Regions from separate parts of the Homo sapiens genome. Here all the other regions are linked to region 3. The links come from fine-mapping of genetic effects on gene expression. A gene starts in region 3. Each other region holds a variant in brackets. All regions are shown on one strand. Distances are from middle to middle. Region 1 overlaps MTA1 (metastasis associated 1). Region 2 holds the start of TEX22 (testis expressed 22). Region 3 holds the start of CRIP2 (cysteine rich protein 2). Region 4 overlaps MTA1 (metastasis associated 1).

Region 1 (7,340 bases), 34 kb after region 3:
GAGAAGGCGGGCGTGTGCACCCAACCTCAACCTGTGTCTCCATTCTCCCTCCCTTCCAGACCCCAGTGTACCACCTGAGAACAGCAGGGTCCCAAGGAGGAAAAGGCCCCCGCCACACTGGGTAGGACCTCAGTCAGCTCCTGGGAGGCCACGCCCAGCTATCCCAGCCCCTCTGGGGTGACCTGCACAGCAGCCACGGCCCTAGCGGCGGACGCAGCCTGGACCCCCCGCATGGGACCAGCCCTCCCACCTGGCCTGGCTGACAAACGTCTCCAAGTCAAGACGGCTGTAAAACGCCACCAGAGAAGCACGTATGTTTTCTGAACGAGTTTTTATAACATCTTTGCTACTGCAAGAATTGTGCTGTAATTCTAATCACAGTGCAAGTGCCTAATGGAATACTATTTATAACTCTTTTTTTTTTTTTTTTTAAGATGGGGTCTCACTCTGTCGCCCAGGCTGGAGTGCAGTGTTGTGATCTTGGCTCACTGCAACCTCTGCCTCCTGGGTTCAAGTGATTCTCCTGCCTCAGCCTCCCAGGTAGCTGAGATTACAAGCGTGAGCCACCACGACCAGCTAATTTTTGTATTTTCAGTAGAGACAGGGTTTTGCCATGTTGGCCAGGCTGGTCTGGAACCCCTGACCTCAAGCAATCTGCCTGCCTCAGCCCCACAAAGTGCTGGGATTACAGGTGTAAACAGCACCCAGCCTCACCTAACTTTTTAATTTTTTGAGATAGGGTCTCACTCTGTTGCCCAGACTAGAATGCAGCAGTGTGATGTCAGGTCACTGCAGCCTCCATCTCCCAGGACCACAGTCCAATTACACCATGCCTGGCTTTTTTTTTGAGACAGAGTCTTGCTCTGTCGCCCAGGCTGGAGTGCAGTGGTGCAATCTCGGCTCACTGCAAGCTCCGCCTCCTGGGTTCACGCCATTCTCCTGCCTCAGCCTCCCGAGTAGCTGGGACTACAGGCGCCCACCACCACGCCCGGCTAATTTTTTTGTATTTTTTAGTAGAGACTGGGTTTCACCGTGTTAGCCAGGATGGCCTCGATCTCCTGACCTCGTGATCCGCCCGTCTTGGTCTCTCAAAGTGCTGGGGTTACAGGCGTGAGCCACCGCACCCGGCCTTTTTAGATGGAGTCTCACTCTGTCGCCCAGGCTGGAGGGCAGTGGTGCGATCTCAGCTCACTGCAACCTCCACCTCCCGGGTTCAAGCGATTCTCCTGCCTCAGCCTCCTGAGTAGCTGGAACTATAGGCACCCACCACCACACCGGCTCATTTTTGTATTTTTAGTAGAGACGGGGTTTTACCATGTTGGCCAGGATGGTCTCTATCTCCTGACCTCGTGACCCACCCGCCTCAGCCTCCCAAAGTGCTGGGATTACAGGCATGAGCCACCGCACCCAGCCAACCTGGCTAATTTTTAAATTTTTTGTAGAGACGGGGTTTCACCACATTGCTCAGGCTAATCTTGAACTCCTGGACTCCAGCAATCTGCCCGCCTTGGCCTCCCAGAGTGCTAGGATTACAGGAGTAAGCCAAGGCACCTGGCCACTTTTCTTAAAGATAATTTGGTTTAATGTTATAAATGGGTTGGGGGCAGTGGCTCACTCCCAGGAGTTCAAGACCAGCCTGGGCAACATGGTGAAACCTCATCTCTATAAAATGTGTTTTAAAAATTAACCAGATGCAGTGGTGTGCGCCTGTAGTCCCAGCTACTTGGGAGGCTGAGGTGAGAGGATCACTTGGGCCTGGGAGGTCAAGGCTGCAATGAGTTGAGATCGTGCCACTGCACTCTGGTCTGAGCAAAAGAGCAAGACCTTGTTTCAAAAAAGCAACAACAAAAAAGAAAGAATAAAGAGAAAAGTGCTCAGTTGCTCTGCACAGCCTGCCGGGAGCCGGGCGTTCTCGAGGGTGGAATTCCTCTGTTTGGGACGTGCATCTCCTCTCCCCTTCGCATCTGTATCTGCTCACTATGGTGGTGTGAACCCAGGGACCACCATGCTCTGCTTCAAGTCATGATCCAATGTGGCCTGACCCTCCTGCAGGTCGAGCTGTCCCTACCCTGGCCGCCGGGTTCTCGCTTTGTTGGCTCCTGTGTCCCTGACAGGCTCCACCGCAGTGGGGTTACATCCACATCTGATCACAGTGACACACACAGACCATCCAATGTCTCAGCGAGCCATGAACCCTGCAAGAACACATGACCGCAGCCACCCCACCCGGGCAGCTGGGACCGTGGGGCCAGGCTCTTCCGCATTCAGGTTCCCACCAGCTCAGCGCCTCAGGCCAGGCCTCCCATTGCCACACATGCACCCCACCCTCCAGGATCACTGTGTGCATTCCATGACGCTCAAGGTCTGTTCTGCTGTGTTCCTGCACACAGTGGACTCAGTCACACTCGGGGTCTGTTCTGTTGTGTTGTGTTCCTGCACACAGCGGACTCAGTCACACTCGGGGTCTGTTGTGTTCTGCTGTGTTCCTGCACACAGCGGACTCAGTCACACTCGGGGTCTGTTCTGTTGTGTTGTGTTCCTGCACACAGCGGACTCAGTCACACTCGGGGTCTGTTCTGAGACGCTCCTGCACACACAGGTAAAGGCGGTGAGGCCACACTAGGCCATTCTTTCTTCTCTTCCTTCGAACACCTTTGCTTCCTGAGATTAACAATCGTCTTTTTTCTCCACTTGCCTAGTTTTTCATGGAATCATCACAGATTCTTCCCTAAAGTGCTCGGCAGCAGAGCTCCCAAAGAGAAAGGGCTCATATCAGGGCGCCTGCGAGGCCCCTCCCAGAGCTGGGGTCCACCCTGCTTGCTGCCTGCACCAGGGGCCGCATCTTCCTGGGCGGGAGGAACCTGCGCCTCCCTCGTGTTGGAAAGGCGCGGAGGAGTGCACTCCAAGGCCTCAGTCAGGAAACCTCACTCATCTGCCTTCCGGGAGATGGAGCTTGGCTGGGCGTGGAGCCTCCACACCTGAACGCGGCTGCCGAAAGGCAAAGTGGGTTTTGACTCCGGTGCTTCGTGTGTGACCCACTTTTTCTCTAAACACATTTCTTCTCCCGTGTTCTAAAATTTTAAATACACCTTGAAGGGGCCCCTCTTTATTGCTTTGCTCGCTCCTTCTCTGCTATTAACTGGACGTTGGACCAATGGACTGATGTCTGATTTTTTTCTCTCCTAGTTTCTTTGTGTTTTTGCCCCATCTTCTGTGCGGTATCCTCAACTTTATCACCTGATCCTTTCATTTCATTTGCTACTTCTCCTAACCCAAGTGTCAAGAGCTTTCCTCTCATCTGACCACATCCCAGGATGGATCCCATCCATTTCTCAGAGAACATTCACGGGCTTTGTTTTGCTTTAGTTTCCTTCTGTTCCCTGCACTGGCCCTTCCTCTGAGTTCCTTTTTTACTTTTTTATTTTTTTGAGACAGAGTCTCGCTCTGTCGCCCAGGCTGGAGTGTAGTGGCGGGATCTCGGCTCACTGCAAGCTCCACCTCC[C/T]GGGTTCACGCCATTCTCCTGCCTCAGCCTCCCGAGTAGCTGGGATCACAGGCGCCCGCCACCACGCCCGGCTAATTTTTTGTATTTTTAGTAGAGACGGAGTTTCACCGTATTAGCCAGGATGGTCTCGATCTCCTGATCTTGTGATCCGCCCGCCTCGGCCTCTCAAAGTGCTGGGATTCCAGGCGTGAGCCCCTGCGTCCAGCCTCTGAGTTCAATTTTTACATGTGCTGGCTGACCTTCCTGTTAAAAGCCCCCCCGCCCCGCCCCATACGCCTTGCGGCTTTTCATCCCTGGGAGCCTCCCCGGTGCTGGGCAGCTCGCTGCATGGGCTGCACCCATGGGTGCTGGGGTAGCGGGCATTCTGCTGGGTCCCCGATGCCAGCAGCTGGGTCTGTGGGCTTTAGAAGTCTGGCCGCTAGGGTCCTGGGAGCCAAGGAGGCAAGAGGGGCGGGGGGGCCCACCAGGGGACAGGCCATGAGCCAGGCGATCCCCACTTCCAGCCCCCGCACGAACTGTGCTGGCCTGGGTCTGGTGCCCCAAATCTGGGTCCTCTGAGTCCACTGCTCCAGCCCAGGGAAGGGCTCTGTGGGACCACCTGACCCCCCAGACAGGCCTTCCGCGCTGCCAGCCACATGTCACCATGGTTCCTGTTCTCCCCATCCTGACCCAGGCCAGGGCCAGGGCCTCTCAGGTTGCCCAGTCTGCCTGGCTGCCTTCCAAGCTGTGCCCATACCTCCCAGTGGCACCGCCTCTCCCACCTTCCTTGCCCTGTGGGTGCAGAGCCCCAGCACCACTTTCTTGTTATTTGAGGGGGCGTTCAGTCCAGGGAACAGAGGGGAGGTCTGTACTCAACCAGCTGCGCCCACCTGGAAGCCCCGCCTGGAGCTCCTTGGCGTGGAGGGCACTGGCCGCACTCTGTCGCAGGCCTGCGGGTTCTTTTCCACATGGTGAGCGTCTGGCTCGGCTGCCCTGCCTGAACAGTCCAAGAGAGTAGTCGTGCCCCTCACAGGCTGGTGTCCCGCCCAGAGACAGGCAAGTGCCCACGCCATGTGGCCCTGGCCCTGAGGAGGAGGGAGTCCTAGGACGAAGGGGACGCCTCTGAGCGTGTGCAATGCTACATGTGTAACTGAACATCGCCCAAGGGCTGGAAGCCAGCCCCCTGCCTGCACACGCCTGCAATCTACTGTCTGCACATGGAAGCCGGAAGCAGCACGAGGGAACCTTCCTGACAGTGGCACCTCCCAGCAGTGGCACTCGGCCAGGCGCCCACGGAGGCACTGCAGCCTCCCGCCCCGGGTTGCCTGCCAGCTGGCTGTGTGGGGCCAGCAGTGCCATCTGCCGGCCGCCCCTCCACTACACAGACCAGGAGGGACACAGGACCTCCCCCAGCCATGGTTCAGCGTCAGCTGAGGAACCTCCCTCTGCACCTGTTTCCCTACAGTCCACATGCTGGGATGCGTAAAGTGCTGCCCCGCACTCAGGAGGCTCAGCCACAGGAGTGGCGCCCCATTCCGGCAGTACCCAAGTGGCCTTGCTCTGCAGGCGGGCAGGCCCTGCCCAGCAGGGGCAGTGAGGCAGACTCAGAAGACACCCAGGTCATTGCCTGTGCCTCCAACAAACAGGCCTGGCCCTCAGACCTCCCAGGAAGCTGCGGGGGAGCAGATGTCGCACCCCATGCTCCTCGGCCCCAGGTGGTGGCAGATACCGCAGGGAATGGCCCTCGACAAGCGCAGCCAGGGAAGCCCGGAGCCCAGCATGGCTACGTCAGAGGTGGCGCGCTAACCTTCCCCCCGCTGCCCCCTCTGATCCCAAGAACCCCACGTCACCGCTGCCACCAAGCCTGAGGTCCAGGAAGGCAGCTTCTCCCAGGTGAGCCTGCAGCATCCAGATGGAACACCAAGGGCCCGAGTGCCCCAGGCCTGCCGAGTGGGCAGGGCTCCTAGGAGAAGGCAGCCATCGGGCCACTGGCTCCAGGGGATCGGGGGCTCAGGAGCCCTGCAGGCAGGCACAGAGAGGTCTGTGAAGCACCCAGCACCCCACCCCACTCTCTGCTGGAACCATGTGTCCACTGGTGGGGACAACCTGCCCTCCCTCAACACCCTTAGAAAGTCTCCAACCAGGAGGAGGAGAAGGGACGCTGGGGGACCCACCCACCACCCCTGAGGACAGCGAGAAGGCTCCCAGGGTGTGCGGGCGCCCTACACCTCCATGGCCATCTACGGCTCTGTCTCCCGAGCTGATGGGACGGAGGCTGTGCCGAGGCAGTGGAGGCCAGGAGTGGCTGGGGCTGAGGGGCCCATGTGTCACCACCCCCCAGGAAGGATCTGGTGCTGCCAGGCTCAATGCATGGGCACAACCACGTCCCCCGACCAAACAGCAAGCAACTGCCAAGGACTCATGGCAGACACAAACCAGGTGGGAGCAAGGGCTGCCTGAGTGACCAGGGAGGGCGCTTCCAGCCACGCAGACACCTCAGGGTTGGGGGCAGAGCTCACAGCCCTGCAGGGCTGCCTGAGTGACCAGGGAGGGTGCTTCCAGCCATGCAGACACCTCAGGGGTGGGGGCAGAGCTCACAGCCCTGCAGGGCTGGCTGCCAGGGTTCGGGCAGGGCAGGGGCACCGAGTATGGCTTTCTGCAGCCTTTGGTTGGTTTCAGAATCACACCATTCCGCTCGGGCTCCCCAGGGGACACTGGCATCTTCAGGGGACCCAGCACCCACAGACCAAGTGTAGAGTGGGCAGGCAGCTCAGGGCAGCTGCGCTGGGTCCTGCATGAGGCCACCAGGCCCCTCACTCAGTATCTCCAAGGAGGAGCCACGGTGCAGGTGACAGTGGACGGAGTCACTGAAGGGCCTGTGCAGTGGCCAGTCCAAGATCAGCCCCGAAAGGGGGCCACCCACACTGGCCACCCACAGGGCAGGAGCTGGCGTAGCCCCCACCCACTACCCCCCTGCAGCAACACCAGGGCCCCCCAGTACCTTGTTGAGCTCCTCGATTCTCCGGATCAGGTATGGGTTGCTGGAGGAGTTCTCAAAGTAGACGTAGTCTGCAAACAGCAACAGAGAGAGTGCCACCTGTGGCACCAAAGGCCAGACCCAGTCCCACCTCCCGTGGCCCAGGGACTCGGGGCTCAGGCGGGGCAGTGTCATCCCCTCACCTCTGCTCCCTCAGGCGAGGAATAAACAGAGGAAGCGAAGCCCCCACACCATCAGGGAGGGGTGGCTGCAACCAAAATGGACTGACAGGCTGGGTCAGGGACAGGGAGATGCATCTGGAGGGGCCGTTCCCAGCAGGAGCAGACAGCCCCCATCCCGGATCCTCACAGACGCCAGCTGCCCCCAAGGGCTCAGGCCCTTCTTGGGGAAGCTGTGGGGGCCAGGCGGCAGCTTCCCAGGCAAAGCCCAGCTCCAGCACTGCCCAGACCCTGCCGGGAGCCCCAGGACACCTTCCCACTGGCAGCAGCCAGCCTGGATGCTACACCCCCAGAGCCACGTGGCCACCACCAGCCACCAGCCCTGCCCACAGCGGCCCCCATCTTTCCCTCCAAAACCAACAGCAGTGACTACACAGAGAACACAGTTGGGGCTTCCTGGGCCCAGGCAGGCTCAAAAACAGGACAGAGTTGCTCCAGGAATGACAGGAATACCAGAGCTCACCAGAGCTCAGGGACAGCAACAGGCAGCAGGCACTGGGAGTGCCCCAAGATCGGCCATCAGGTGAGTACAGCGCTTCCCTCAGCGATGAAACCATCTGGCCCTCCAGCCTTCTCACCAGCTCCACAGACAGAGAGCCACGGAACCTTCCGGAGCCCAGAGGCTTACCCTGGAAGGCCCAGG
Region 2 (7,340 bases), 73 kb after region 3:
TTTCAAATTATACTTTAATGAATATTGGCAATATCTTGTTTACTTCTGCATGCTTTTGAACTCTGAACAAAGCCACATGGCATGAATAATTTTGTCACCTTTTTGCCTCTTTCACTCAGGAACAGGTCTATGAGACTCACGCTCACGGCTGCACGCAACAGGCGTCCACACAACCACATTCCCAAATCCGAGGTAAGTTTGCTGTTTGACAGAAAAATGCAATGTGAACTGATGCACGGCCGTTTGGTGTCCATCTTCACCCTGCGGTTGGAATATTCCTGTGCTTACCGCTGCACACGTTCACAACCCTACCGCTGAATTTGGTTGTTTTCAACCCACTCTGACAATGTCTGTCTTTTAACTGGAACACTTAGTCCGTTTTCATTGACTGAATTAAATGACGTACCGGCGATTCTATCTGCCATCGTATCTCCTTCTGTTCTTCTGCTGTAATATGTGAGGGCAGGCAAACTCATCTAACTCCAAAGATGACAAGCAACTCGATCTTTTTTTTTTTTTGAGTCAAGGTCTGGCTCTGTTGCCCAGGCTGGAGTGTGGTGGTGCAATCTCAGCTCACTGCAGTTTCCGCCTCACAGACACAAGTGATCCTCCTGCCTCAGCCTCCACGTAGCTGGCACTACAGGTACATGCCACCATGCCTGGCTAACTTTTTGTGATTTTTTTATAGAGATGGGGTTTTGCCATGTTGCCAGGCTGAGCTCAAGCAATCCTCCCACCTAGGCCTCCCAAAGTGCTGGGATTACAGGTGTGAGCCACCATGGCCCACCCCCCTCCTCTTCTCAGAGGAACTGAGAACACTTTAGTTCCACTCACAGGCACCATCTTGACATTTATGCCATTGCAGGTACATATATTGATTGTATCCTTGCTTTTCTGTGCATGAGTGACATCCAGTGACTGTCAGTTTCAGTTTACTCAGACACTTCCTACTTCCTCTCATGCTTTATCCATTTCAGACCTTTCATCACTTTCATGATGCTTTGAGATCATTTCTTCAGAACTGAGGTGAGAGTGTGCTGGGGGCAAATTCTCTTTTTTATCATTTAAAAACTTTACTTAGCCCTTTGTATAATCCATTTTTGCTGGGCCTGCTATTCCAGGCTGAGCATGGCTTCCCCTGAGCACAGGCATGCTACTGCTCTACTGTGACGAGCTCCCGTGGCTGCTTTGAAGGTTCTGTCTTCCCACTCAAATTGCTTCTGAGGTTTTTGTCGCTGGCATTCTACAATTTCACTATTATGCTTCTCAGTACATAATTTCTTAAAGCGTATAGACTAAATGACTGCCTGTGAGAGCTGTCCTCCAAGATGGCATCCAATGATCCTCACCTCCTGGTATCCATGCCCCTGTGTCGTCCCCTCTCACACTAAATAGGATGACCAGTGTATCCAAAACGGATACTGTAGAAAGAGAGGAGTGTGACTTCCAAGGTTAAGTCATGGAAGTCATTGCAGCTTTCAGCTCACTCTCTCCACTCACTCACTCTGGGGGAAGCCAGCCCCCATACTGAGGATACTGAAGCTGTCCTATGGGGAGATCCACGTGGTAAGGAGCTGAGCCTCCTGCCAGCCCCTATCATGGACTCGCCAGTCATGTGAGTGAGCTGCCGTGGAAGCAGTCTCCAGCCTTCCTCAAGCTTTGAGATGACTGAAGTGTTGACTGCTATCTCAACTATAAGCTCCTGAGAGATCTCAAACCAAAGCCACCAGCTAAGCAGCTCCCAAATTTCTGACCTACGGAAACTAAGATAAAAATACTTACTGTTTTAAGTTGCTAAGCTCTGGGGAAATTTGTCATGCAGCAATGGATAACCAATACATTGCCAAAGGCTGGGTATGGTGGCTCATGCCTGTGATCCCAGCTCTTAGGAAGGCCAGGAGTTAGAGACCAGCCTAGGTAACATAGTGAGACCCTGTCTGTAATTTTTTTTAAAAAGTAAACTAGTAATACATTTCCAGAATCACTATGTACATTTAAAATGAAATTTTCAAGATTCATGAAGTCTGTTTTTTTAAAAAACACTGAATTGTTTTTGGGAAGCTTGGCATGTTTAAAACGTTAAATCTGGCTGGGCGCAATGGCTCATGCCTATAATCCTAACACTTTGGGACCCCAAAGCTGGAGGATCACATGAGCCCAGTTCAAGACCACACCAGGCAACACAGTAAGACCCCATCTCTGCAAAAATTTTTTTAAAATTAGCTAGGCATGGTGGCATGCCACTGTGGTCCCAGCTACTTGGGAGGCTGAGGTGGGAGGATAGCTGGAGTCCAGGAGGTCCAGGCTGTAGTGAGCTGTGATTAGAGAAGCAGGAGTCTAGGAGAGCCAGGATAACATCATTTTATGTTCAACTCCACCTTGAGACTAATAGAGCACATTCCTTACAGGTCACAACCACGGACCTAAGATGTTTACAGCTAAGGAAGCAGCTTGGTAATGCCTACAAGGACAAACTCATAGAAAAGGAAGTTCAGATGTCCCAACACCCACAATAATATATGCTTTCAAGATAATTATAGTGATGCTTTAATGTACTTGCACACTAAAATGTAAAATAGTTTCCTTTTAATCAATAGAATAATAAATTGTTATGCTGTCAGCCCACCCACACGTAGGCACAGCTTGGTCTTTACATAGATAAGACCTCGATATAAGAAAAACTAAAAACAAAGTAGGTCTGTTCCTCTGCTTGCTTGTTGAGGATGCCCTGCTCTGCAGTGGAGCGGCTTTCAATAAATGATCTCTTCTCACTGCACTCTGCAGCTCGCCTCAAACTCCTTCCTGCATGAGATCCAAAAACCCTCTCTTGGGGTCCAGATGGAGATCCCTTTTCCAGTAACACTGTGATCATACCACTGTACTCCAGCCTGGTGACAGAGCAAGACCCTGTCTCAAAAACACACATATGAAATCTGCCCATCCAATATGATAACCATCTCCATCAGGAGCTCTACATGCTATTCAGTAACATTGTAAAGTGTTCTTCATGAAGGAATTGAACAACAGGTTTCTCTTTTTTTTTTTTTTTTTTTGAGACGGAGTCTCGCTCTGTCGCCCAGGCTGGAGTGCAGTAGCGCAATCTCGTCTCACTGCAAGCTCCGCCTCCCGGGTTCACGCCATTCTCCTGCCTCAGCCTCCCGAGTAGCTGGGACTACAGGCGCCCGCCACCACGCCCGGCTAATTTTTTTGTATTTTTTAGTAGAGACGGGGTTTCACCGTGTTAGCCAGGATGGTCTTGATCTCCAGACCTTGTGATCTGCCCGCCCCAGCCTCCCAAAGTGCTGGGATTACAGGCGTGAGCCACCACACCCGGCCAATAACAGGTTTATTTCTAAGAACTTCATAGTTCCTGTTGCTAAGTTGAATAGTATCCTTTGCTTCCATTCCATTTTCTGCTTTTTACTGTGTTGAAAAGTTGTGAATGGTGATCACATATCCAAACTCCCTCTTTTATCTGTACTCATGTTTCTTAAATTGGATTTTCCAAGTAGGTAACATATTAGATGCAAATAGTGATTGTCATCTTTTCAGATATTTACACATCTCATTTTCTTGATTTACTATAAGGGCTTCGGTTTCCAGAATACTGTTTATTTACTTTTTTGAGACAGTCTCCCTCTGTCGCCCAGGCTGGAGTGTGGTGGCGGAATCTCGGCTCACTGCATCCTCCAACTCCCAGGTTCAAGCAATTCTCCTGCCTCAGCCTCCCAAGTAGCTGGGATTATAGGCACCCACCACCATGCCCAGCTAGTTTTTGTATTTTTAATAGAGACGGGGTTTCATCCCATTTGCCAGGATGGTCTCCAACTCTCGACCTCAGGTGATCCGCCTGCCT[C/T]GGCCTCCTGAATTGTTGGGATTACAGGCATGAGCCACCGCACCTGGCGATTTTTCTGACGTCATAGTGGTACCATGCATCCATCTGCTTGCATCTGAAATACTTCCATTGGTGGCCACTGCAAGCTCTTGAGAGCTCCCCTCCGTCAGGCTATGGAGATGTCCATCTCTTCCCATCTTATCCAGAACCTACAGGTTTCTATACTTCGGTTTTTTTTAAATTATACTTTTAAGTTCTAGGGTACATGTGCACAACATGCAGGTTTGTTACATATGTATCCATGTGCCATGTTGGTGTGCTGCACCCATTAACTCGTCATTTAGCATTAGGTGTATCTCCTAATGCTATCCCTCCCCCCTCCCCCCACCCCACAAGAGTCCCCGGTGTGTGATGTTCCCCTTCCTGTGTCCAAGTGTTGTCATTGTTCAATTCCCACCTATGAGTGAGAACATGCAGCATCTGGTTTTTTGTCCTTGCGATAGTTTGCTGAGAATGATGGTTTCCAGCTTCATCCATGTCCCTACAAAGGACATGAACTCATCCTTTTTTATGGCTGCGACTTCTTTTGTTCTTAAGGAAAGATACTGGAATTTATTAGTATTACTTTTCAACATCTATTGAGATAATCATGTGATTTTCCACCTGTTGTTACTGAACTTTATTTACAGATTTCAAAATTCCTTTGTCCTTGGGTTACAATCTTCTTTTATTTACATACAACTTCATTTATTCCATATACATTCATTGAGCACCTACTATGTGCCAGACACTGTCCTAAGCACTGGGACAGAGCTGTGAAGAGACATGTGCCTGCTCTCCTGGCAGGCGGAAGTGTGCAGGACCCATCCTTACGGCTATGAAATTCTGCATTTCAGGTGCTCCTGGATTTGGTCTAGTACTTACTCAGGATTTTTCAATCTATGCCCACAGGTAGACTGGCACATCATTTTCTCTTTTTCCTTTTCTCCCTCTGTTCTCTTCTGGCACTGGTATTGGGTGATACCAGGTCCATATCAGAAGTGGCTCTGGGCAGGTGAAGCTTCATCAATGAGGATGACTAATTTCTTGTTTGGGAGTGCCCACCTATAAAGTCATCTGGGCACCCACATTTTTTAGGGAAGATTCCCTGTCCCCAAACTAAAAACCTGCCCGTCAGCAGAGATGCACCCATACCTCTTTCCACCCTTGGCCAACAACCTAATTCTCCCACTGCTCGCCTGCCCTTGGAGGCCTTCAGCCCACTCTTCTGCCTCCCAGCCTTGTCCTCAACCACCATTACCCATAGCCACCAGTCCATCTCTTGGAACTACAAATACAGCCTGGCTGCCCCTGCCCAAGAGCCACTGGGTCCCTGTGTCCTTGCTGGATATGGGTCCAATACACACTCCTCCTGCATCCACATCCCTACCCCTTCAGACATAGTGCCCTGTCCCCAGCCCTGTGCAGGACAGAAGCCTCACACCCCCTGGCCCTCCTCCTGAGCGGCCCTCACTAGACAGGTGACCTATGTGTATTTATAGTCCGGATTGCCTGTCATGAGATGTTCGCCTCCCAAAAGCCACTGCATCTGCTGGTTTGGTCACCCCACTCCCCAGCACCTGACACCATCATAGGGGTTTTGAAAGCATTTGGGCCTGAAGGACATGACTGAGAGGGTACAAAGGGGCCTCAGCGGGCAGCCCTGGGAACACACGCAGACACGCCTGTGTGCATGGCTCAATGAGCTCCCCACACTGAACTGGCCGCATGACCAGCGCCAGCTGCCAAAGCATTGCCAGTGCCCAGGAGCCCCTGCACCCATCTCGCCACAGCCTAGAGCCATCTCTCAGCCTGGCTTTGAACCTTCCAAAAGTGGAACCACACGAGTGGGGTTCTGGCTTCCTCTGCCCTCAGAGAACGTCCTAAGGCTGAACAGCTATATCCCACCATTCTCACTACTGGGCCTGACACAAGCCTGTAGCTCACTGTCCAGCAGTAGAGAGACCAGGAGATGCTTCCAGTTTGGGGAATCACAGCAGAGCCTCTCCCACTATTTTGTTTTGGTCAACTTTCAGTGACAAATCCTTCTCCTGACAGCTGCCCCACCTGGTTGGGAGGACACCACCCCCCCTGGGGACCTTGCTTTCCCTCCCGCTTCTTGCCACCTTCAGCCTGGGGTGGGAGGCACTGGGGAGAGCTAAGGGAAGTGTGTTGCCTTGCCTCCTTCCTGGCCTTGGAAGACCTCTCTACAGAGCCCAGCGGCCCACGGTTCTGGAAGCAAGAAGGGTGCAGGTCCACCTTGGTGCTCGTCCAGGGCCATGGGGAAGAGAGCCTCCTGAGTCCAGCCATCTGTTTCTCATCAGTCCCCACTCAGCCCTCCCCTGAGGCTGCTCATCACGACCAGCCTGGAGTTTTCAGAGACAGCGGCCTCAGGCGGGCTGGGGACAGGAGAGTAGCCTCGGCCAGGGTTTCCTTCCGCTTACCCAGTCCTGAGTCTGCAGTCCCTGCTGAACGCTGCTCTGGATACTGGGCTGGCCCCAGGCTGCTATCAGGCCCAGTGGGGGCCGCCTGTGCTCTTGGGAGAGGTGCGACTCCAGCTTCTTCCCCCGGGGGGACAGTTTCCTGCTGTCCATCTCTAGCCCTAGTAGGCTGCTTGTCCACACCTCTGAGATCTGGGGGTAGGAGCAGGGGGAGGTGGGGCGGGGCCCACAAGGCCACCCACGTGCCCACCAATACCTGAGTCCCTGGGGGCAGATGGTGGCAGTATCGCGGTCTGCTAGGGTCACCTTCCAGCCAAAGGTCAGGCATCACTGACCCCTCTGGGTGGAGTGGATCCCCCAGCTCCCGCCGCAGCTCTTCTCCACACCAGCCTCCCGAACTGTCCTCTCTGCCCCTGCCGACCCCACCCCGGGAGCCTGGAAAGCCTTCGGCAGCCTGCTGCACGGACTCCACGCCTCTGCCAGCCTTCTCAAACGTTCCAGGGGCATCAGCCCTCAGCCAGCACTGCGGGCACGCTCTCAGGGCCCGGCCTTGCTACGCCCGGGGCGAAGGAAAGGCCCAGAGCTCTTGCCACAGCCCCGCTTCCGACCCTGAGACCTCCCCTCCACGCGGCCCAGGCCTCGCCCCAGGCCCAGCCCGGAGCCCTTACGTGCCCGCCCTCTCCGGTGGGGAGGCGGGGTCTGCGCGGCCGGGGTCCGCGGAGGGACGGGGGAAGAAGGCTCAGGACACACGCTGGAGGCCGTGGGCACTCTGGGGTTCGGCGGGGGGGCGGGGTACACGGGAACGGCGGTCGGAGGTGGGGGGTACGTGGGCACCCGGAGACAGAAGGAGGGACAGACCCGCCGCGGATGGAGAGGCCACAGGGGGCCGCTGGAGTACACCGCGGCTTGAGGGGGCCCAAGGGGCCGGCGCCTCGCTCCAGAACGTCCGCTACGGCAAGCCCCGCCCCCACCGGTTCCGCTTCCGGTCTGCGCCGCGCCTGCGTTCTGGGCTCCGTTGCGGCGGG
Region 3 (7,340 bases):
AGCCCGCGCCCAGCCCACCTCTGCTGGGCCCCTTCGGGGGGCCGCTCGCCTTCCGCTCCTCTGCTCGGGCCGCGGGGACCTCGATGGGGCCGGTGACCTGCGGCCCCTCCGCCAGGGGCTTCTCGTAGATGTAGGAGCCCGCGCCCCCGATGTTCACGCCTGCGGGTGGGGGTACGTGGGGCGGGGGTACGTGGGGTGGGGGCCGCGGCCACCGGGCATCTCAGAAAACGGCCCGCTGGGGACTGGGGGGCACTAGGCTTTCCAGGGTGGCAGGGACTCTGGGCGGGGATCCACGGCGGCCGGGACCCCCAGCCCTCCCCAGCGCCAGCGCCACGCCCCTCCCAGCAGGTCCCAGGGCAGGCCGAGGGCAGCCGGAGCTCACCTTTGGGTCCGAACAGGGTGGCGTAGCACGGCTTGTGGCAGAACGGCTTCCCGTCATGCTGCGCAGAGGGGCGCGGGTCAGGACCCTGCCTGAGGGTGGCGGGAGTCGCGACCCCCGCCCCCGCCCGCGCCGCGCAGTGGGGCTCACCTCGGCGTGGCCCCCGGGCGTCAGCGTCTTGCTGCAGCGCTCGCACTTGAGGCAGAACTTGTGCCAGTCCTTCCCCAGGGAGCTCACCTTCTCGGCTGAGCGGGAGGGGCGGCAGGGGGGTCAGGGCCGGGGCGCGCCCCGCACCCCCTCCGCCCCCACCTGGCAGCCACCACCCCCACGCGCTCCGGGGGTCCCCACTTTCAGGAGGTCTCCCAGGCGCCTTCCTTCCACCTGGCGGGCCCTGCCCCTCCTTCTGAGACCCGGAGGAGCCCGTCGCCCCCAGGCCCTGTTCTCCCTCTGGGTCTCAGCGCCCCCAGCCCTGGAACCCCGCTAGAGCCGCCTTTGAGAAGGGGCCCGGGGCTGCCCTGTTAGTCCCCTCAGTGCCTGCGGTGAAGGGGCCTGTGCTCGAGCCTGCCCGCGCTCCAACACCTGCCCGCGCTCCAACACCTGCCCGCGCTCCAACACCTGCCCGCGCTCCAACACCTGCCCGCGCTCCAACACCTGCCTCCCGGACACCCGCCTCACACCCGCCTCCCCCACACGCCCGCCTCCCCCCACAAATCTGCCTCCTCCCACACACCTTCCTCTCACACACACACCCGCCTCCCCCACACGCCCGCCTCCACACACCCGCTTCCCCCCACACACACCCGCTTCCTCAGACACACACCCGCTTCCCCCCACACACCTGCCTCCCCCCACACATATGCATCTCCCCCACCTGTCATTCCCTCAAACACTTCTCTTACACTCACACACCTGCCTCTGCAGTGCACCTGCTTCAACACATGCTGCTCTCCCTCTCACACCTGCCTCGCACTGACACGCCCCTGATCCCCACCAACTGGGCCCTGATGGGGCTGGCAGCACCCCGCTGCTGAGTCAAAGGTGCAGCCCCAGAACCTCCAGCTCCCTCATGGGAAGGCCAGGCCCCGTCCCCGTGGGTCCTCCAGGCGGGACCCTCATCTGTCTGTGGATTCCTCGTCCTAAACCCTGAGCTCTCCCCCCGCCGTAATGCCCCTGGCTGCCACTGGCATGGAAGATCTGAGGGCAGCTGCTGAGGGTCCGGGACCCTCTGCCACTGCCTCCCACCCCCACACTGGGGCTACTGGACTGCTTCCCAGTGGATGGAAGCAGGGGCCTCCCTAGGGAGCCAGGCAGGAAGAGGTGGGGAGGGGCAGGAAGGGCCCAGCAGAGCCGGAATTCTGAAGGGAAGGGGACAAGCTGCAGGCCCTGGGGGGAGGGAGCATGCAGGCTGGGCCCACCCTGCCCGGCAGAATCTGGCCAAGCCCCTCAGGTGGCCGAGGACCAGTGGCTCTCCCAGCTCCCTTTCTCAGCAAGTGGCCCAGCCCCCTTTGTCTGGCAGATATCGGGGAGGGGCATCTGGCTAGGGCGAAGCCCACTCTGAGAGGCCCAAGGGTGCTGCTCCTGGCAGTGAGATGGGATCCCCCAGGTGGCCTACTAGGTAGAGGGCTGTGAATACTGGCTCTCCGTGGCCCTGGTACAACCCTCTGGGCATGGCCAGGGCCAGCCTCCAGGACACCAGCCCAACCACAAGGCTGCACCAGCTTAGAGCCCTCTGACCAGAACCACTCCACTCAAGGAAGCTGGGACACACCAGGGCAGGCAGGGGCTGGCTGCACGGTGGGCAGGCGTGTCCCAGCAGCAGCAAGGAAGTCTCGGTGGCTATCGGCCGTGGCAGCTGCAGCCCAGGGCTGCCAGCACTGTGCTCTGGCCAGCTCTGGGACGTGGGCCAAGTGGGGGCAGGGAACTGGCCCTCAGACCCACTGGGTGGGTCAATGGCCACACATTACGGGTCCGAGTTGGGAACACAGAATCGATTGGGTCTAATGGCTCAGAAGAAAACCAGCTGCCCACCCTGGCTGCATGGGCTCTGGGGTGGCCTCCTCAATGTGCTCCGACATCCCAGCCTGGGTTCTACTCAGGTATGAGCTGCGGGGGCAGCCTGGTGTGAGGGTGGGCAGGATTCTGGACCCTCGCCCTCACAGTGCCTCCCAGGCAGGACAGAAGCCAGCCGGGTCTGAAGCGCCTTTGTTTTCCGCTGAGAGGCTGGGCGGGCCAGGCAGGCAGGCCTTTCCGGGCTGTCCACAGGACTGTTGGCCGAGACCCTGGAGAGCCCCAGGCTGGCCTGGCCCGGCCTGGGGTAAAGTCATGGGCAGTTGGACTGCAGAAGGGCCCTGGGGACCGTCTCCCACCCTAAGCCTTACAGAGACAGCCCTCGCTGGGACAGAGACTGAGGGCTGAGCGGGCTCCAGGAGAGGCAGCCGGAAGCCCCTCGGCTCCCAGCCACGCCAGAAGCACTCCAGGCCAAATCCGGTCCCTCCCCTCTGGGACGGGCAAAATACAACCTCCCCTCAACCCCCTCCAGCCTGTGAGCCGGGGAAGCCCAGTGGCGGCCTTCCCTGCAGCCTGGCCGCATTCTGGGTATGGGGCGACCAGGGCAGGCGCCCTGTTGGTCCCGGCCCTCCTCTCTGCTTCACTAAGTCTGCCCCCCTTCGTGCAGCAGCTGGTGGGTAGGTGGGCAGGGACCTTACCACCCTGGAGAAAGCTGGGCAGCGAATCAGCCAGGAGGAAGGGGGTAGGAAGGGCGCACCCAGGCCCAGAGAGTGAGTAAGCCCAGACGGGGGGAGCGCGCCTGCCGGAGGGGCTAGACCGAGGGCCGCCTTGCGAGACATCCCTCTTCCCGCCACCACCTGCATCCTGTCCAGGGCTGTTCTGACCTTGAGGAGGCAGGGATCCTGGACACCTGGGCTGCTTGAGCACAAGGTCCCTCTCACGTTCGCGGGAACTCGCGTGTCACACCCGCCCCCACCCTACCCCCGTGTGAAACTCCTGGGGGAACTGGCGCCAAGGGAATGCGTCGGGACAAGCAGGAGGCAGAGGCCAAGGTCGCCCCCGCTTGGACTGAATCCCGACAGAGTCCAAACCTGGCCCAGCCCAGCTCAGCGGAGCCCGGAGTGGGAGCTGGGGGTCACTGTTCCCGGCCACTTGTTCCCGGGGGAAGCGGGTGTAGGGGGTCCAGGAGAAAGGGCCCAGGCCCACGGGAGCGCGCGGGACGCACCCGGGGCGTACAGCCACGCCCTGCCCCGCCCCGCCCGGCGCCGTCCGAGGAACCGGGATGCGTCCGCGGATCCCCGAGCGCTCCCCCAAACACTGGCCTCATCCCGGGGCACCACAAGCCCCGCCCGGGTGGTCCCTGCCCCGCCCCCACAAGCCGCTTCGGGGTTCGGGCGTGACCGCCCCCGCTTTCGCGCAGCCCCACCCTTTGGCTTTAGCCGCTTGGGCAGCGCGGCCAGCCAGCCTCCGGGACGCGCATCCTCGGTCCGGGGCCGGGGCCGGGCGCACCCCGAGTTACGCCGCGGCTCTGCGGCGCGGGACTGGCCGCGAAGGGCGGCGGGATGCACCGAGCGGGCCGGGAGCGGGCACGCACTCACCGAAGTACACGGTCTTGTCGCACTTGGGGCATTTGGAGGCCATGGTCGGTGCGCCCGGTCGGCCCGCGCCCTCCGCCCGTTCTCCTCCGGGCCGCCGCCGCCCGCGCCCAGCCCCGCCTGCCCGGCTGTCCGCGCGCCCATTGGCTCCGCGGCCGGGGCGGGGCCTCGATAACCCGTCCCCCGGGCTGGGGGCCGCCTGGGGGCGCCGCGGGGGCGGGGCGCACCTGCCGGGGGTGGCGGGTGCGGGGCAGCCGGGCCAGGCCTGGCGCCCCCGGGCCCCTCGCGCCGGAGGTGGCGTCTACAGGGGCCCGCCCGGGCGACCGCGGCGCCGCCCGCGCCCCGGCTGTTTCCATGGCGACGTCGGGGCCGCCTGGCCGGGCCGTCCCCGGGGCGGCGGGCAGGGTGCGGGGAGCCTGGCCCTCGGCTCTCGGGGAGCCCTAGTGACTTGGGCCTAGGGGTCCAACACTCCCGGCCCTGGGCGCCCAGGCTGCGCTCCGCCGCGGGAAGGGGTCGCAGGCTCCGGGAGAACCCCACCCCCACCCCGCCGCGCGCGGCGCCTGTCCCGCTTCCCTTTGTTGCTCGGTTTCCATAGCAACAGCCGCGCCGCGGGAGCGGAGTCAGATTCCCGGCGGGCACGGCCCCCAGCCCTGTCCGGGTCTCCATGTCCCGCTCCGCCCCCGCCCGCGCCCCGCCCCAACACTGTCTGTGGTGCTGAAGGCTCCTTGGGTGGAGGGCAGGGCTCAGGAAGGAAGGCGCCGCCACCTCCAGAAACAGCTCGAGAAGCTGCTGGTAGGGGGTGTGGGGAGGTCTGCGTCTGCCTCCCAGGCAGGGAAGGGGCGGCGGGCACCAGCGCCGAGGGATCCGCGCTTAAGGCGTCCACCCCAAGCACTTCCACCCAGGGGGCGGCCGGGGAGGCGGTGAGGAGTTAGGAAGGGAAGGAGGGGAAGGAGTGGGCGTGCCCTCTGTGCCCCGGGCTGGGGCTGACACTCCAGTCCCTTCTCCCGCACCGCCCAGGACCAGCTGCGTGCCTGGGGGCCCAGGGCCTGACCTCGAGGGGTCAGGCGGGAGATTGAGGGGTCATGCCAGTCACCGCACCCCCACACCCCCACTCTGGCCTCCTCCCAACCAGGGCGTGCCTGACCACGCCTCACCACAGTGCCTCCGCCCTAGAGCCCCGTAGAGCCTGGCCCCAGGTGGGGAACCTCCGCACCCACGGGCTTCCTGGTGCTCTGTCCCCATGGGCCCTTCTCTGAGCCTTCTGGCCCCAGCTGAGCGTCGGCCTGGGAGACAGGCAGATCCCAGAAGCCCAGTGATCAGGCCCTATGGGGGCAGCTGACTCTGGACACCCTTCCCCCTGTGTCTTGGAGGCTGTGGGCTGGACACGGAGACCTACCTGTTCCCTCTGCCTGGTGCACCAGGCATGTTTGTGAGCCAACCAGAGGCCCTCGGTGCTCCTGGCTTTCATGGTGGTCCTGGCTGGGCTCTCTGTGGCAGCACCCTCCTCCCTTGCACACACACCCTGCAGCCACTGCCATTTCCATGGTGACAGCAGGCCAGAAACATGCCCCCCGCCCCCCCGCCCGACTGACCAGCCTGACCAGCTCCCCCTCTGCACTTGGGACCTGTGCCAGCCAAGGCAGAAGATGGTGAGGAGGCATCAGTCAGTACCTTTTCTGGGCAGCCCTTCCTCCCTGGCAGGCCCAGGGGTCCCTAGGGGTCCCTCACAGCAGGGCCTTGCCCAGGCTGGATTCATGGGCCCACTGCCAAACCCTCTCCAGCTCCCTGCCCTGTTCTGCCCAGCTTGGGAGCCTGGGGCTAAGCCATTACCCTCCCTGACTTTGCTACCTGTGGGGCTTGCTACCTGTGGGGCTTGCTCTGGAGGACAGGGCTGGCTGAACACAGGGCTCTTCTGGAGGGAGACCACCTGCCCCAAGGTCCCCAGCCCTGCCAGAAGAGTGGATGGGGGTAGAGGCAGGCCCCTCCCAGGGTGGCAGCAAAGGAATGGCATTCGGCACTGGCCAGGTGCCCTGGAGACACACGGAGGGTGGGGTGGGACAAGGAGTGTGCCAGCTGCTGCACTGCCCTCACCCCAGCCGCAGTCCCTGGGCAGCGGCCAGAAGCTCCCTAATGCGACGGGGCTATTCTGGGCCTGGCAGGCAGGGGTCAGGATCAATGGGTGCAGAGCAGTGGCCTTGGTCTCCACCTCTGAGGCTGCGGTGGGTCACAGGCAGGGGCAGTGACACAGTGGGACGGGCCCGAGTGGAGAGGGGGGCACAGGACACGGCGGGTGTGAAGGGAGCTGGCAGGGCTGATGGCTGGGCATGGGGCTGGGTCACACCCCTGGGCTGCAGTGGTCTGGTCCCTTCCGCCATCCTGTGACACTGGCAGATAGCAGGCCCCTGCTACTCAGCTCCACTGCAGGGAAGCCAGGCTGGGCTGAGTGGTGGACAGAGGACCCTAGCAGGGTGGAGCGGAGCTGGCAGGACAGGTCTCCAGGCATGACAGCATGATGGCCTTGCCACCCTGAGATGCCCCTGGCCCTGGGGAGCCGCGGCCCCTGTGGGGTTGCTGGTGCAGAAAGCAGGCTGCTGTCTCATCAGCAGGGAAGGGCCTAACGAGGACATAGCAAAGCTGGGAGACCCCTTCATGGCCTGGGCACCAAGGCCAATGCTCCCCCCAGCCGGTACCCACTCACTTCTAAGCCCAGGTTTAGACCCACAAGCAGCCCAGGCCCCACCCAGCACCGGTGGCCAGAGCTTGGCCCTGTGAGGGCACTGCAGCCTGGGTGTCTGGCCGGGGAGGGTGTCTGGGGTGGGAAAGGGCCCCACATCTCCTCAGGGCCTCCCTGCCCTTGGGATAGAGCCCAGGACCTAGGACACCTCACAGCCCACATGTTGACTCCAGAAAAGGACAGGCCCTGGGGGGTGGAAGAGCTGCTGAGGCCAGAACCCTGCAGCCAGCACTGGGAGGCAAGCCCGAGGCCTGGGGAAGGGAGACAAGGGAGCTGGGGTCTTCACTGAGCTCCAGACCCCCAGGGTTGGAAAAGGCCTCAGAGGGAGCTGTGTCCTTCATGAGGTCAGGGGCCTGATTTCCCAGCCGTCTGATGACGCACTACAGGCAAGTCCTCAGGCTGTGGGGTCACTCGGATGCTGGCTGCAGATTAGAGTTGGCTGGTGGGGGCTGGGGTTGGGTGGGGGGGCGCCACAGCCCAGGGAGGGTGGGTGGGACGTGCACTGCAGCCGAGTCCCTGACACCTAGTCCTGTCACTGCTGGGCCCCAGCACAGGCTCCCACGGAGGCCAGGACGCCCCCTTATCTTTGTCTCCTGGGAGACAGCAGAAGTGGTTTCTATTTTAA
Region 4 (5,474 bases), 27 kb after region 3:
GGCAGGTGTGCCCCGCAACTGTGACAGGCACTCCAGGGAACCAACACACTCCAGACGCTTTTGCCCCCACGTGGCCTCAGAAAACCCAACCCTCCCGTTCGCTGGATCTCACAGCAGCCTCAGTGCCACCGCTCTCCGTCAGGCGACACTGCTCCCCAGGGATGTATGGCATTGTCGGGACACATTTTTTGGTTGTCACGCCTTGGGGGATGCTATACGGCAGGTTAACACCGTATAATCACAGGTGACCCCCAGATAAGAATCACCTGGTAACACCGTATAATCACAGTGACCCCCAAGGTGGGCCTACCAGGACTCTGCCCACCGCCCAGGAGAGACCAGCCAAGACTCCTGCGAAGACTCAGGTGGCCCCTGCCCCCACCTGCCTCAGCCACACCCTCCCCAGGGGGACCTCCCCTCGCTGGCTGTCTGGGTGGCAGTGGCAAGAGGAAAGAGCTCCAAGCTCCTGGCCCACAACTCTGGACGCGTAGGGTGGGGGCGGCCACACACCAGGACACCTGGAAGTGACAGTCAGGACGCAATCCCCGCTTCCCCCCAGAACAGCCTGGGCCTAGAGGGAGGAGGGAAAATCGTCTCCGCCGCCCAGGCCAGCAGAGGTCATAGGTAGAGGAAACAGTGGCCCGGGACTGGCTGCGGCAGACCAGGCCGGGCTGGGCCTCACCTCCCGCTCCAGGTAGGACTTGAGCGACTCGGTCTCGTTGAGCAGGGTGACGCTGCACTTGCCCCTGGAAGAGAAGGACGGGCAGGCTGGAAAGGCGAGGGCAGCCCGAGGGGCCCAGGGCGGGAGCTGCTGGGGGCTACCTGATGTGCGTGGCGGGCAGAGACTCCAGCTGCCGGGAGAGGAACAGCTCCCGATGCCGCAGCTGGTGCTTTAGTTTCTCGGGCAGGTCCACCATTTCCGGGTTCTCCATTTCCTCTTCTATTTCCCCTGAAGGACAAGGAGCCCCTGTCAGCACCGCGGCAGACGCACACTGCCAGACCAAGGCCCACCCCACCAGCCCCACCTGGCGCCAGCACGCAGGAGGCCCAGTCCTGGGAGGCGTGCCTCCTCCTGCTGCCGGACACTGTCCCACTGCCCCACCCTATGGCGGCCCGGCGGCTCCTTGGCAGGTACCCCTGCAGACACTCTGGTGCCCACGTGCCCTTTAAGTCCAGGCACCCTAAAGGCCCAGACTCCCCAGGGCATGAAGATGGAAGGAGGAGGGAGAACAAGGTCCGGGCCAGCCCCAGAAGCAGCAGGCAAGAGCAAGAGGAGCGGGGGAGTCGGCGGCTGCCAAGAGCCCAGGCCAGGAGGGCGAGGGGCAGCCGCCCTCTGTCCGTCCCCATCTCGTGGCCAGACAGCCCCATACAGCCCACCACAGACCTCCCACACCAGCAGGTCACCCTCAGGCCGGGGCCGCACCAAGCCTGGGCCGTGGGCCGGACACAAGGGAGGGCCCCTCCTCAGCCGGGCCGGCCGGGCGCAGGGCACAGGCATGCAGGCGGCCCGCCCAAACTCTGTCCCTCAGCGGCGCTGCCGCCCCCAGCCCAGGGACACAGACAGGAGGACGCCCTCCTTGCGGAGGCCGGCTCTTACCTTCCTCGCCGTTGTCCGCCCCCGGTCCGGCCTTATAGCAGACTGACAGGGCTATATAACAGACAGACAGCACCCGGCAGCACGGTCAGCACAGGGTGGCGGCCTGCTCCCTGCCCAGGGCCCGGACCGAGGGCTGTGCCGCCAGGGGGCAGGGCAGAACGGGGGCCGCAGGCCTCCCGGTGGGGCGTGAAGACCACCCGGTTGAAGATCATCTGGGCCTCGACGTCCCCCCACTCTGGCTGCCCATCCACCCAGTGCCAAGCCTCTTTGGGAAGAGCCCAGACAAGCCTGGCTGTGGAGGGCCCCTGTCCAGAGGCCACCCCTGCCCCCACTCCACTGGGGCTTCCCAGAACAGGCTGTCCAGATGAGACCGGGGCCGGGCACCGGCCAGCAGCATGGGGATTCCTGCCCTGTGCTAGGAACCCAAGTAGGGTTCTTATAACACCCAAAATGGGGGCGTGCAGTGGTGCTCCCCACCGCCCCTCGCACGCTCAGCACCGGCCGCCAGTGGGCCACTCATCCCGCTCAGCGCCCTGCCGGCTCTCTGAGCCCAAGGTCCCCAGATGGGACCACAGCCAGCCGGGCTGCTCGCTCTCTGCGGCCCCCTTGTGGTGCCTGCAGGAAGTCCTGGCTCCTCTGGGCCCTCCCAGGCGCCAACAGCTAAGACTGAGGCTGGGAGCAGCCATGCTGGGCCTGTTCTGGGCCGGCCCTATCTGGGCCTCAAAAGCCTGGGGTGTCTGGCGGCTGAGCCTCACCTCCTCCCGGTCCATAGAACAGGGCAGGGCCGACCAGGACAGCCCCAGTCCTCTCATCCCAGGCCAACACATCTCACTCGCTCCCACTTCTGGGGACCCACGAGCAAACTGCACCCTGAACTCAGACATCACCAGGGCCCAGAGGCCCACACACCAGCCCCAGACCAGAGGCTGGCTTTTGTTCACGCCCGCCCTATGCCAGGCCCCATCCGAGCACTGACCCAGCCTGGACAGGAGCCCACAGCGGCTCCGAAACTCCCATTTCACCAGCGTCCCGGTCAGCAGAACAGGGCTCTGTGGTGCAGCCTGTCGGAGATGCGGGCGAGGTGGGCCTACAGCTCCTCAGAAGACCCTCAACAGGCAGAAACACCCAGGCAGGAGGTGGGGCTGGCTAGTGTACCCTGCACCCCTCAC[A/T]CTCTGAACCCTCCCTCAGACCCTGGATACACCCCTAAGCGTGAGGCCCAGGCTGTGCCCTCACTCCCACTCTTGGCTGTGGTCTCCAGGGCCCCCACGCCCTCCTCTGAGGAGGGACGTTCCCCTCTCCCTGTCATTCTGTCCTGAGAAAGGCTTCATGCTCACAGCCCTGCCGGGGGGAGGGCTTCTCTGCCACAGGGGCCACAGTGCAGCCTGGCGGGTGTCTACCCTCCACCCTGAGGCCTGCACTGTGGGCTGGACGCCCCAGCAGGGGCTGGGTGGAGGCAGTGACGTGGGAGAGCCAGAGGCCTCCCAGAGTGTCCTCACACCTGTCCCTGGGATCAGCTGGGGGCCTCACCCTGGCTGCCATGAGCTCACAGAGAAGCAGGAGAAACGGAGATTGACACAACCCCGGGGGGTGTGGGCCCTGCAGAATCACCGCAAGGCCCAGCCGCCAGGCAAGAGTGGGGCCGCGCTCTGAGTCCCTGGACCAGCGGCAGACCCATCACCCATGACGCCTGCTCCCTGCAGCTGGGCTCTCAGTTCATAGGAACGCCCTGCAGAGGGGCCGCCACGCAGCTTTCCAGGGAGCACCGTCCAAAGGGGCTGTGCTGTGTACCTGGGGGGGCCAGTGCTCGAGCTGGGACACTGCTCTCCACCCAGTCCTATCAGCCCCAACGAGGCCCTTCTGGAAAACCTGCCCTCTGATACCTCTAATCACGTTATGTCTGGAGTCCCCTTCTGGGGCTCTTCCAGCAAAAGGCCATCCTCTGGGGCGTCTGAGAGCAGAACCTCAGCCAAGGGGGCCACAGTACCCTCAAAAACCACTAAACCACTGATACAGGCTCTCTGGAGCAGGGACACTGTGCCCCCAGGTGCCAGAGGACAGAGACAGGATCCACCCTGGGCCAGCCATAAACATGCCCAACTCAACGGTGGCGCCTGACTCCCCAGGCCACACAGACTGGCAGGGCCACACTGCGGCCGCTCAGCCTGGGCACTGCTTCTCCAGCGGGCCAGCCCGCTCCCCACCACTGCTTCTCCAGCGAGCCAGGCCGCTCCCCACCACTGCTTCTCCAGCGGGCCAGCCCTGCAGAGTCGACATAGGCCAGCCTCCAACACTAAGAACCGCCAGCCGTGCTGCTGACTGGCACCCAGCACCTGCAGGGCCAAGGGCCACACCAAACACCCCTCCAGAATGTGTAGCCTGTGGACCTTCAACATCCCCAGCTCTCCTCCTTGGTGCCTGGAGCCCGCCGAGTGCAGCAGTGGAGTACACAGGCTTTGGGGTCAGAGGTCAAGGATCACCATGCCCCACCTTGAACGCTCCCCTCCTCTGAGCAGAGAGCTAGGAGGTCCAGTTCCTCACAAAGCCAGAGAAAGCCCATGGTCAACTGGCAGCTCCCTTTGGGCCAGCCACAGGCCCCACAGCCCAGTGTCCAGAGTGGACCCAGGCTCGGGGGCCCGGCCCAGCTGCACTGACCCAGGGCAGCTCACGTCCGCATCCACTGGTTGCTGAGGAAAGGTCCCAGCTGTCCGGTGGGCAAGGCAGTGGGGTTAAGGGACACCTTCCTTCCACAAGCGCCTGCCCTGGCCGACTCCCAGCAAAGGCTCAGGAACAAGGCATCGGTGGCAGGATGGTCTGTCCTGTCCCTAAGCCCCTCCCAGAGCAGGGGGAGGTTGCCTGGGCTGACTTCCTGCCCCTCACCCACAGCGCTGGGACGGGGCAGAAGATGCGAGGGTCCTCCCACCCGACCCACCGCAAACCCACAGTCCCTGGACCTCACCCCATTAGGGGTCGTGGGAGGTTACAGGTGGGACCTTGGCCCACCCCAGCGACACGGGTACCCGGGCAGTCACATGCCTCACCTACTGGGAAATGTCACCCTACAGACCACAGCCTCAGCCTGGGCTCAGATCCCACCCCAGGTGATGTGTCAGAGTGGAAGCCAAAAATGCCCCTCATGCCTGCCCCCACCGACACATGAAGGGCCTCAGTGGGGTACCACACTGTGTCTGGTGCAGGTGGGGCCCAGCTCGGCAGGCCCTGTGTCAGTAGCATGTGGAGGGCGTGGGGGTGCCTCTGGCTCCTGGCTCTGAAGTCAACATCCCCCGGCACAGGAGACTCCACCACCTGCGAGCACCTGTTCCCGGGGGAGAAGCTGGGTCCCCAAGGCTGAGGGCATTCCCATGCAGCCAGTGGCTTCCTCCCACACGCTGTGCTGGCCACAGCAGCCCCTCCCAGCCAGGTTACTAAACTTGGGTTTGAATCGTAAAGAATAAGGAGAGGACTGCTTTCCTGAAAACACTACTCAGAATCCCAACAGAAGCCTCTCCGCAAAATTAAAAAGAGAGAGACATTGGCAAGTGCAGGCAGCAGGGTCCCACCAGCCTGGAAAGTCTCCAGAAGTCATCATAGAAGGGAAAAAGAAGCCTCGATCAATGATGCCCACACCCAGCCACACCATGACAAGCTTGCAGAGGATGCCAGTGAGAGACAGACCACTCCGGGGGGCGTGCGAGGACTTCATTCACCCAGCCCCCGAGGAAACGGAGCCAGGACACCCCCGCCCACTGTGGAAGGGAGAAAAAGAGACGCCAGAGTGAGTTGGGCAGAGGGTGGCCCCACGAGGCCAGGATGCCGATGGGCCCTAGGGAAGAAGGACCCCGCCAGCCCTCCCCAGCCGACCCTCCCGCCAGGCGGGCAC

What was found. PIP is the estimated chance that this variant, and not a neighbour inherited with it, causes the effect.
Region 1: its variant is fine-mapped to the expression of CRIP2 in whole blood (TOPMed, PIP 0.94).
Region 2: its variant is fine-mapped to the expression of CRIP2 in whole blood (TOPMed, PIP above 0.99).
Region 4: its variant is fine-mapped to the expression of CRIP2 in sigmoid colon (GTEx, PIP 0.94).

What each region holds. Positions count from the first base shown.
Region 1 is chr14:105,437,882-105,445,221 of GRCh38, reverse strand. It overlaps MTA1 (metastasis associated 1), which reads right to left. Exons shown (of 21, transcript NM_004689.4): 2 at 6,483-6,550. Among named protein-coding and RNA genes, the nearest start is that of MTA1, 22 kb to the right of the region's middle. RefSeq lists an enhancer at 7,223-7,340. The variant C/T (reference allele first, on the strand shown) is at 3,503.
Region 2 is chr14:105,398,469-105,405,808 of GRCh38, reverse strand. TEX22 (testis expressed 22) reads right to left here and starts at 7,271. Exons shown (of 4, transcript NM_001195082.2): 1 at 7,174-7,271; 2 at 6,319-6,507. The coding sequence starts at 6,468. RefSeq lists enhancers at 6,160-6,670, 6,671-7,181 and a silencer at 6,849-7,340. The variant C/T (reference allele first, on the strand shown) is at 3,857.
Region 3 is chr14:105,471,550-105,478,889 of GRCh38, reverse strand. It overlaps CRIP2 (cysteine rich protein 2), which reads right to left and starts at 4,069. Exons shown (of 8, transcript NM_001312.4): 1 at 3,985-4,069; 2 at 530-624; 3 at 383-440; 4 at 19-159. The coding sequence starts at 4,027. RefSeq lists silencers at 4,047-4,156, 4,337-4,406, 4,677-4,826, 4,917-5,006, 5,017-5,066 and enhancers at 5,095-5,627, 7,183-7,340.
Region 4 is chr14:105,445,533-105,451,006 of GRCh38, reverse strand. It overlaps MTA1 (metastasis associated 1), which reads right to left. Exons shown (of 21, transcript NM_004689.4): 4 at 1,598-1,648; 5 at 823-949; 6 at 683-746. Among named protein-coding and RNA genes, the nearest start is that of CRIP2, 27 kb to the left of the region's middle. RefSeq lists a silencer at 1,982-2,121. The variant A/T (reference allele first, on the strand shown) is at 2,767.